Regions from separate parts of the Homo sapiens genome. Here region 1 is linked to region 2. Evidence: fine-mapped QTL for protein levels in blood plasma. Region 2 holds a variant in brackets. A gene starts in the other region. All regions are shown on their reverse strands.

What was found. PIP is the chance, under the fine-mapping model, that this variant and not a neighbour inherited with it causes the effect. The UK Biobank Pharma Proteomics Project read protein levels with antibody pairs (Olink). The fine-mapping took linkage between variants from a reference panel, not from the people measured, so its PIPs are less certain.
Region 1: it holds the start of DTX3, and the variant in region 2 is fine-mapped to the plasma level of the DTX3 protein (UK Biobank, PIP 0.93).

Annotation. Positions count from the first base shown.
Region 1 is chr12:57,604,502-57,609,867 of GRCh38, reverse strand. It overlaps DTX3 (deltex E3 ubiquitin ligase 3), which reads right to left and starts at 5,044. Exons shown (of 7, transcript NM_178502.4): 1 at 5,010-5,044; 2 at 4,137-4,297; 3 at 3,616-3,678; 4 at 3,350-3,425; 5 at 2,255-3,003; 6 at 1,131-1,348; 7 at 66-791. The coding sequence starts at 3,350. The coding sequence ends at 716. RefSeq lists enhancers at 4,650-5,162, 5,163-5,366.
Region 2 is chr1:224,170,564-224,175,931 of GRCh38, reverse strand. It overlaps the pseudogene LOC724084. Among named protein-coding and RNA genes, the nearest start is that of DEGS1, 10 kb to the left of the region's middle. RefSeq lists an enhancer at 4,872-5,368. The variant A/G (reference allele first, on the strand shown) is at 2,314.

The sequences.
Region 1 (5,366 bases), not on the chromosome of region 2:
TTCCAGCAGGTCCCTCTCCCCACCCCACCCCCACCCAGTCCCTGGAAAAGAACGGGTGTGGCATAAAGAGTTGCATATTTTACTTTATTTTTATTAAATTAAAAGCTACAGTCTGGCAGCGATTCCAGAACAGGGTAAGGAGGTTCCTCACAGGGGTCAGAGAAGAGCGGAGAAAGACAGACTGACGGAGACTGAGACACAGGAGAGAAAGGACAAGGTTAAGGGAGAACTGTATCTGATGAACACACACAGCCGGCTCCATGGCGGGTGACGGGGAGCTCACATCAGCCCAATTTCTCCTCCCCGGCACCCGAAGTTCAGCGGTGGAGCAGTATGTGGGGGCGGTTAGGAATCAAGAGACCCTCCCTTCCCCACCCTAGGTCCTTTCTCGGCTTGGTCGTGGAGCACAGCACATACCAGAAAAAGCCAAGGGCAATGGAGGGGCAGGGAAACCGGGAGTATATGTACACGGGGAGGGGAGAACAGAGCCTTGGAGGTCGGCCTCTGCCAGAAGGGAGTGGCTCACACTGCATTGAAACACTTGGCCAGTGGGGGATGGGGGAAGGGATTGCCCCCTCCCTCTCGGAACTCCCTTCCCAGTCAGACAGGTCCCCTACAGGTGTGGTGTGGGGGGCAGGGGGCAGAGAGGAGAAAGAGGCTTCTGCTGGGTCCTAGTAGAGGCAGACAGCAGGGGCCTTGGCAAAGGCGATGTCCTTCAGTCATCTGTGATACCCTTCGCTCTCAGCTCCTCTTGCACCCGGGTCAGGTAGGTGGGGTCTGGGTACCCAAACCTGGGAGCAAAGAGAAATGAGGGTGAGGGTTGTTAGCTGTTTGAACTTGCTATTATCCCCATGCTCACCCTCATTCTAGGTGGCTCAGACACCTCCCCACCTCCCCTAAGGGAGGACACCTCCAAATCCAAGATAATTTAGCCCAGTTCTGCTTATTTTTGTAGGCTAAGCTGGGCACACCAGGACCAGGTTGAATGTAGGAGAAACTGAGATGGCTGAACAGTTTGGAAGTGGTTCTCTCCAGTTAGGAGGCTCCGTGAGCGAGGGGTTGGTGGGTCCCTCAGTGGAAATGGAACAAAGGGGAGGAGCCAAGGGAAAGGAAATGAAGAGGGGTCGCACAGCTGGGGTCCCCCTGTGCAGCTGGTCTTGTGGTGGATGTCGTTCCAGGTGATGACATTCGGTCTCCCTGTGGTCATGGACGTGCCGATAGTGAAGGTGAGACGCTGGTCAAACGCCTTGCGGAACAGGGTCAGCACCTTGTTGCCCTCAGGGCAGTCCGGGAGGTAGGCCACCCGTGTGGTGCCAGGATACCGAACTCCTGGGTTTGGGTGTTCAGCCTGGGAGGAAGGTGAAGCAGAGTGGGCAGTGAGCAGCCAGGCATCCTAAGGCCCAGATGCCAGAGGAGGGTCATCCAGGCTAGTCTCTGTCTGAGCACCCCCAGCTAATGCGAACGGGGCAGCAACAGGCTGACAGCTTTCCACAGAAGGAGAGATTATACGGCCTCGGCAGCAAGAGCCTGTTTCAGAGCATAATCCTTATGTGTTAAGAGATTTTTTCTGCTGTCTCAATCCCTCAAGTCTCCATTCAGCAACAAATGGATTCTCAGAAGTGATGGAAGTTAGCTGGTCCCTACACTCCAGACAACTCAGCAAAAATGTGAAGACAGAATAATCTATCTTTCAGCCTTCCCTTCACCTGAAAATACTCCTAATGTTTCTGCCACTGTCTAACTTGTTCCATTTTCCATCACTCTTCTGTGCAGCTTCTTCACCCCTCTGCAGCCAGAATTGCACATTACTCTTTGTCCAGCAGGAAGACACCTATAGGCCTTGACTACTCCTGTTTTTACAGAGTGATGCTCCTGGCTCTGTTGGGTTGGTCAGATCCCTTCCTATTGTGCCTCCCTTCCCCTAAGCCACCACCTCCACAGAATTTACCTCTGCCAAGATGTCAGCACAGTATTTGTGTTCATCAAGGAAATAATATGCAATTCCTTCCTCTCATATCTGATTTGCTTTTTTTTTTCCTAGCTCATATCTGATTTTCACGTGTGCCTTGGGATCACAGGGATGGAAAGGCTGGGCCTCACGGGGACCTCCTAGGTCCAGGGCACTGAGTAGGAGGGCACAGTGGAAGACAGCAAGACTGTCTCACATCTAACAAGCACACTCACCCTCACCCGGTTTTCCTAGGTCAGAGCTTGGGGAAAGCCAAAGGGTAAGGGCAGGCCATGGTCTTCTTACCCCCTGGACACCGGGCGGGAAGACGTACTGGATGACAATGGTGCCGTACTTCTCATAGCTGGGCAGTAGGAGGGTGGCGTCCTTAGAGACCAGCATCCGCCCATTCTGGGGCTGGTTGCCCACCAGCTGCCCATAGAAGCGGCCGCACATGGGGCAGGCCTTTTTCACCTGCAGAGCCCGGGTGATGCAGCCCTCGCAGAATGAATGCCGGCACTTCTCCAATGTCTTGGCATTCTGGATCTCCCCCAGACAGATGGGGCAGGTGCTCTCCTGCTCTTCTGCCTCCTCCCGAAGGCGAGGAGGAAGAGGTGGGGGCAGGGGGGGAGGAGGAGGGGGGAGCCCCCGAGCTCCTGGGGGCAGAAGTGGGGCTGCTCGGAGAGGGGGTGGGCCTGCGCGGTGCATCTCAGGGTGCTCCCCTCCACCCCCCAGAGCCAGGCAGCCCATCAGCTCCCCCTGCCTCTGAGCTTTCTTCAGCTCTTTCTCTGCCTCTTTTAGCAGCCCCTTGAGAGCCTTCCGGGCTAGGTAGAGCCCATTTGGAGGGGCCGGGGGAGGACCCTGTGGGGAAAGCTGGAGAACATAGATGTCAGAAGTCTCGCCATCTATGAGGATGGACACACGGTGCTCCTCCCGAAGCCGGGCCAGCCGGGCTGGGGTCTCTTTGCTCAGGAAGTCCCACACGGGCTTGGACACAGTCACTTTGTTCTTGCAGGTGCCTCCACAGGCTGCCATTCTGGACAGGACGAACGACACTGCCCCCAGGGTGAAAGGGACTCAGGGTGGGGGGTCCCCATTTGACAAGTATCAGTGCCTCCTACTTCAGGTTCCTTCCAAACCCTCTATTACCTCTGTTTTCTCAAAGCCTAATCCCCAACCCTTCACCCAAATTCATATTCTGTCTCCCCTTATCTTCCAAACCCAAAACCCACTGAAGAGCAAAAAAGTTTCCAGAGCTATATTATCATCTAAGCCAAGTATCAGTCTTGTTTCTCCTGTCATTTCTCCCAGATCATAGAAACAACTTGCCCCTCCCACCTCTTGGGGAAAAATGGGCTGTTTAAAGGGGAGGGAGACTCTTTGCCCCTCCTTTTTGCTTACTTTGATCCTGAAGAGCTTAGAATTGGCATGCAGGCTCACTCTTCTTTCCCTGCTCCCTACTTGTAGGTCGTGTGACCTGGTAGGGCGGAAAAATGGAAGGAAAGTGAGAAACCCCTTCTCCCAATTCCCATGGCCCCCAACCCAGCAGCCCATGGAACAGAGACAGAAACCTGGGTATAGGTTACTAAGAATGGCATTACTTGGAACATGGAATGAAGGAAACCAGTTTAAGGGTGAAAATTGAGGATCCCTTGCGGGGGAGATACCTGGAAAGCCCATGGAAGATGATGGCAGCAGAAATCCTTCTATTTCCACTCAGCTGACCAGGACTGGGAGTGGGGGAAGGGTAAAAAGTTATGATGGCAAATGTTACCATTCCCCTCAGCCAACCCAGAAATAAAAACTCCCCTTCCATCTCCTCTCTTCTCTGCAGAATTCCATTATCAGCTTCTCCCCAAGTTGCTCAAGAAGGAACTTCAACATGCTAACCTTCCTCCTTTCTTCCCCAGCTCTGAGGCCCCCAAGAAAGCCTAGGGCACACATAAGAGAAGTCAGGAAAGAAAACGCCCACACAGGTGGAGGTCTTCTTGCCACCTCCCTCAGATCACATGGACCGGAATATTTCCTATGCTCCCCAACTCCTCGCCTGCTCCACATTGCCAAATAATTCAGCCCCTATTGCCAGGGAGCCTTCCTTGAGAGCTAACTCAGTCCCTTCTGCTGAAGTCTGTTAAGGATGTGAACAAAGTGGCAGCAGCCCCTGCAATAACAAAGTTCTCATTGTCACCTTTTAAACCCAGCACAGGCAGTGCTGTCTGTCAGCTCCCAAGTCTGGCATTTAGGGAGGGGCGGGGCTCACACAAGGGCTCAGCTGGAGGGGCCTGATGTTTTCCCTGAGTCTGGTCGCATTGGGCTACGGGGCTGTCTCCACAACACTTCCAAATGCAGCTCAAACAGAAAGAAGGGCCATTAGTGTGACCTCCATTTATTGACTGATCCAAGAAGGAGCAGCTGTCCCTTCATGCCTCCATCATCGTCCCCCAAGGCCAGATGCACCTCGAGATTCATAAGTGAAAATGGAACCCTAGAGTCTCAGCCCATACAGTCTATCCGCGATGCAACACTTCTCTCCCCATCACGGGGGACCCAGGACCTAGGTGTCCTAGGTCCAAGTCCTGCTGGCACAGAAAAGGGAGGCGGGGCCCCAGTTTAGGGTGGGTCTGTGATTCCTCTGTGGCAACCCAGGCCGGACAAGGAACCAGTCTCTCCCTCCAGACAGAGGCCAGAGGGAGGCACAGCCCGGATGGGCAAGGGTCCCTGGGGGCATCCACTGAAGCAGCTCCCGCCCTCCCCCCACGGCCTCCTCCAAGACCCGACCCGGAACCAACTCCCCACATCCCTCAGTAGCCAAAGCCCCCGGATCCCCACCGCCGGGTGGGGGTGCATGTCGGCCCGATCGCAGCCCTCAGAACCCCCGAATGGAGGCCAAGGCTGGAGGGTGCTAGAAAGATGATCGGCCGGGCACGGAGCGGGGAGCCCGGAGCCGCGCGCGGGGAGGGGAGGTGGAGGAGGGGGCGCCGGGGGAGCGGGGGGCGCGTGAGGGGTGCGAGCGGGGCCCGGGGGGCGCGCGGTGGGTGTGGGGGGCGCCGGGCTCACCTACCTCTCGTCAGCGCCGCCATTGCCGGTCACATGACTGAGGCTGTTGCTGGGATGACGGTCCGGGCCTTAGCAACAAGGAGGGGGAGACCCCGAAAGGTGGGGGATTGCAGGGGGTGCAGGCTGAGGAAAAGGGAAGGAGGGAGGACAGCACCCCCTTTCCCCTCACAGGTGATAATCACCGTTCCTTTGACCCCCTTCTATCCGCAAGCCCCTGCCCTTCCTCCCCAAAACAAAAATGGAGGCGCTGTCCCAGTCTTTGGAGGGAGGGGGTGGCGTCATGGAACTGAGGGTAGGAGGTTAAATCCCTGGAGACGCCACCCTACTCGCTCCCCGCTCCCGGCGGAGCACTCTCCCTTTT
Region 2 (5,368 bases):
CATGATCAAGAAATGTAACCAGAGGCGTAGTGGCCTCCCCTAAGGCTGAGGCGGCGGCGGGCGCGCGAGGCTGTTGTGCTCCCGGCTCTCCTGTTTCCCCTCCTGAGCGGGTGGAGGAGGCCCAAGCGATGCTGGGCGCGCTCCCCCTTCCTTTCCCTCCGGCGTCCTCTCCCGGCCCTCTCGCGCTGCACTGTCTCTCCGACGCAAGATTCTCCTGGCCCGGATATGGCTCGTGGACAGCAGAAAATTCAGTCTCAGCAGAATAATGCCAAAAAGCAAGCTGGACAAAAGAAGAAACAAGGACATGACCAAAAGGCTGCTGCCAAAGCTGCCTTAATATATACCTGCACTGTCTGTAGGACACGAATGCCAGACCCTAAGACCTTCAAGCAGCACTTTGAGAGCAAGCATCCTAAGACTTCACTTCCTCCAGAATTAGCTGATGTTCAGGCATAAGGTTGTTTACAGGTGAATTCACGACACCTTTGACTCTTCTACTGTCTCAGACCTTAGGTAACATACCTGCAGCTGCTTTTCTAACAAACTGTTGATCAGCAAAAATAAAGGGGCTACAGAAACACTCATTTTTTATGCTGTTCCCTTTTGGGCTTCATGCAAAGACAATTCTGTGTAAATGTACAGTTGACTCTGATTTGGAAATATGAAAATCAGTCCATCCTTGTTATAAAAAAATTTTTTACAATTGTAATTATATTGATGTTCATATTGTGTAAAATAACTCATTTAATAAAATAGTACTTTGATTTACGAAAAAAAAAAAAAAAGAAATGTAACCAAAGAGAAAGATAGCATTTCTGATAACATAAAAAGTATGCAGGCTGGACATGGTGGCTCCCACCTGTAGTCCCAGCACTTTGGAAGGCTGAGGCAGACAGATCACTTGAGCCCAGGAGTTCAAGCCCAGCCTGGGCAACATGGCAAAATTCTCTCTCCACATGGAAACTGACCAACATGGAGAAACCCCAGATTTACTAAAAATGACCAACATGGAGAAACCCCAGATCTACTAAAAATACAAAATTAGCCGGGCATGGTAGCACATGCCTGTAATCCCAGCTGCTCTGGAGGCTGAGGCGGGAGAATCACTTGAACGCAGGAGGCGGAGGTTGCAGTGAGCCAAGATTGTGCCATTGCACTGTAGCCTGGGCAACAAGAGTGAAACTCTGTCTCAAAAATAAATAAATAAATAAGTAAAAATATAAATATAAATATAAAAAATAAATAAAGGCTGCTACTTTCCTAAAAATACTAGGTCTCTGATCAACTGGTGATGGGAATGGGATTAGAACTGCTGCAGGACCACTGGGGAGGGAGAGACAGGAAGAAAGAAGAAAACTGAGAGATTATCAACATTATTTATTGCTCATAAAATGTGTAGAAGCCAGGTGTGGTGGCTCATGCCTGTAATCCTGACACTTTGGGAGGCCAACGTGAGCTGATCACTTGAGGGCAGGGGTTCAAAACCAGCCTGGCCAACATGGCTAAACCCCATCTCTACTAAAAATACAAAAAATTAGTCGGGTGTGGTGGCACGCATCTGTAATCCCAGCTACTTGGGAGGCTGAGGCACAAGAATCTCTTGAACCCAGGATGTGGAGGTTGCAGTGAGCCAAGCTCATGCCTCTGCACTCCAGCCTGGGCGACAGAGTGAGACTCTGTCAAAGAAAAAAAAAAAAAAAAAAAGAAAGAAAGAAAGGGAAAGGGTGGGAGAAGAGGGCCCGGTGCGGTGGCTCACACCTGTAATCCCAGCACTTTGGGAGGCGGAGACAGGTGGATCACCTGAGGTCAGGTGTTCAAGACCAGCCTGGCCAACATGGTGAAACTTCGTCTCTACTAAAAAATACAAAAATTAGTTGGTCATGGTGGCAGGCTCCTGTAATCCCAGCTACTTGGGAGGCTGAGGCCGGAGGATTGCTTGGACCCAGGAGACAGAGGTTGCGGTGAGCCGAGATCACGCTACTGTACTCCAGCCTGGGTGAAGGAGTGAGACTCTGTCAAAAAAAAAAAAGAAAAGAAAAGAAAGAGAATGTGTAGAGCCTGAACCTGAAAATAAACTATTTCTTCTTCTGGCAAATGTTTAGAGGAGCAGATACAATTTAGCTACGCTTGCTAAAAAAGATTCTCCACAGTGAATATTCAAAGGGACATGTACCAACAGTCCTGAAAGAGGCTATACATCATGCCCCTCAGGCTAGGGAGGTACAAGTGTTCTCATAAGTTTTGTTTGTTTTTGTTTTTACAAGCTCACAGCTAAAATCGTGTTCTCATAGTTTTTGAATGCACTTCAAATGC[A/G]CTATAATTTTTTTCTTTTTTTTGAGACGGAATCTCACTCTACGTCCAGGCTGGAGTGCAGTAGCGTGATCTTGGCTCACTGCAACCTCTGCCTCCCTGGTTCAAGTGATTCTCCTGCCTCAGCCTCCCAAGTAGCTGGGATTACAGGCATGTGCCACCACACTCGGCTAATTTTTGTATTTTTAGTAGAGATGGGGTTTCGCCATGTTGGCCAGGCTGGTCTTGAACTCCTGGCCTCAAGTGATCCACCCACCTCTGCCTCCCAAAGTGCTAGGATTACAGGCATGAGACACTGCACCCCACCCACATTAATATTTTTGAATAGGTTGTGACTATAATAGGAGCTTCTCTCCATGGCTGGTCAGCCTATTATTTGACAAATATGTTAAATTCTGCACAATGAACTATTTTTTTTGATACAGAGTTTCTGCTCTTGTTGGCCAGGCTGGAGAGCAGTGGCTCACTGCAACCTCTGCCTCCCAGGTTCAAGCAATTCTCTGGCCTCAGCCTCCCGAGTAGCTGGGATTACAGGCACATGCCACCACGCCTGGCTAATTTTTGTATTTTTAGTAGAGACGGGTTTTCACCACGTTGGCCAGGCTGTCTCAAATTCCTGACCTCGGGTGATCCGCCCGCCTCAGCCTCCCAAAGTGCTGGGATTACAGGCATGAGCCACCGTGCCTGGCCCAGAACTCTGTTAACCATCTTTACAGCAAACTGCAGATTTAAATGGTAGTTCCTTAAAAGCCCAAACTTTGAGGTCCAAAATATTTGGGAATTCCAGTATATTCAGGCATCATTCCCTTTTCCAAACCTGCCCTTGCAATCATATTCATCTATGTGGCATGCCCAGATTAGGGAATCCACTAATTTTATGATTTTATCCTTTGCTAATTAAGCTGAGATTTGTCCTCTTGGCAAATCTGTTAAAGCCAATGAATAGTCAGAACTCTCGGGAGTTATGTCAGCGTAGAAAAATTGATGAATTATCCCCATTCCCATCCCGACCTGTGGTCAATGGCTTTCATAGCTTTCTTTTTCCCTCCCTTCTTCCCTCTCTACTTTCCTCCTTCCTTCATTCCTCCTTTTCCTTCCTTCCTTCCCTCCCTCCCTCCTTCCTTCCTTACTTCTTCCTTCCCTCCTTCCTTCCTTCCGTCCTCCTTCCCACCTTTCTTCCTTCCTTCCTTCTTTTTTTTCTTTCCTTCCTTCCTTTCTTTCTTATTCTTTCTTTTCTTTCTCTCTCTTTTCTCTCTCTCTCTCTTTCTCTCTCTCACTTTCTTTCTCTCTGTCTCTCTCTCCTAAGCAGTCATTTTCTTCAAATTATATTTTTAAGTCAAAGAATTACCCCTCCTACGCTCCATGAAAACCTGATGAAAAGGGGATTGTTATGATCAAACTATAAAAGTTAGAGACAGAAAGAATAATAGAGATTAACAGGGGTTGGGGAAAAGGGGAGTGGGGAGCCAGTCTTTAATGAGTATACAGTTTCTGTTTGGGATGATGAAAAATTTCTGTGAATGGATAGTGGTGATGATTGAACAACTTTGTGAATATACTTAATGCTGCTGAATTGTACGTGTAAAAGTGGTTAAAATGGTAAATTTTGTTATGTGTATCTACCATGATAAAAAATGAACAGAGCCTCAGAGAAATTTGGGACATCATTGAGCTCATCAAAATACAGCTGATGGGAATACCAGAGGAGAGGAGAGAAAAGGGCAAAAAAAAAAAAAACAAAGGAAAAATATATCTAAAATGATCTAAATCTGATGGAAACATTAATCTACACATCCAAGAGATGCAGTGAACCCAAGTAGAGGCCGGGTGCGGTGGCTCACGCCTGTAATCCCAGCACTTTGGGAGGCTGAGGTGGGCGGATCACGAGGTCAGGAGATCAAGACCATCCTGGCTAACACGGTGAAACCCCGTCTCTACTAAAAATATAAAAAATTAGCCAGGTGTGTTGGTGGGCGCCTGTAGTCCCAGCTACTCAGGAGGCTGAGGCAGGAGAATGACGTGAACCTGGGAGGCAGAGGTTGCAGTGAGCTGAGATTGTGCCACTGCACTCCAGCCTGGGCGACAGAGCGTGACTCCATCTCAAAAAAAAAAAAAAAAAAAAAAAAAGAACCCCAGTAGAATGAACACAAGACAGAGATCCACACCCACATGCATTATAATAAAATTCTGAAAGCCAAAGAGAAAATCTTGAAACAGCAAGAGAAGAATGACTCATCACCGAAAAGGAGACCCTGATATGATGAACAGGTGACTCCTCATGAGAAACAGTGGAGGCCAGAAGGCAGTGGGATGGCGTATTCAAAGTGCTGAAAGAAAAAACTTATCAACCAAGGATCTGTGTCTAGCAAAACTATCTGTCAAAAATGAGGGCAAGGGGTCTGAGTGTGGTGCCTCATGCCTGTAATCCCAGCACTTTGGGAGGCTGAGGAGGGCGGATCATGAGGTCAGGAGTTTGAGACCAGCCTGACCAACATGGTGAAACCCTGTCTTTAAAAAAAATACAAAAATTTGCCAGGCGCAGTGGTGCGCACCCATAGTCCCGGCTACTCAGGAGACTGAGGCAAGAGACTCACTTGAACTTGGGAGGCGGAGGTTGCAGTGAGCCAAGATTGCGCCATTGCACTCCAGCCTGGGCATCAAGAGTGAAACTCCGTCTCAAAAAAAAAAAAAAAAAAAGAGAAAAGAATTTCTTTAGAGAGAGTTGGTAGCAGGTTGTGCTGCCCATCCTTGCTGCACACCCTCTGGTGGCAGAAGGAACTGTTGCTTTGTTAATTACAGCCAAGTGAAGAGTTTCTCAGAACCATTCCTCCAACTTGACTTTTGTGTTTGGAGAGACACAGGGACTGGTACCTGACTTGGACTTGAGCATGCCTAAAGGTGAGGGGAAATCAGAAGCTGTCCGTGGTCACTGAGTATGGACAGAGGGTCTCTGCTGATAGTAGCTTTTCTGCCAGGTTGATCAGGTATAGGTGGACCAGATGTGTAACCGTTTGACAAGGGCTAGATTTGGTTGCTGTCTATGGCCTCATAGGTCATG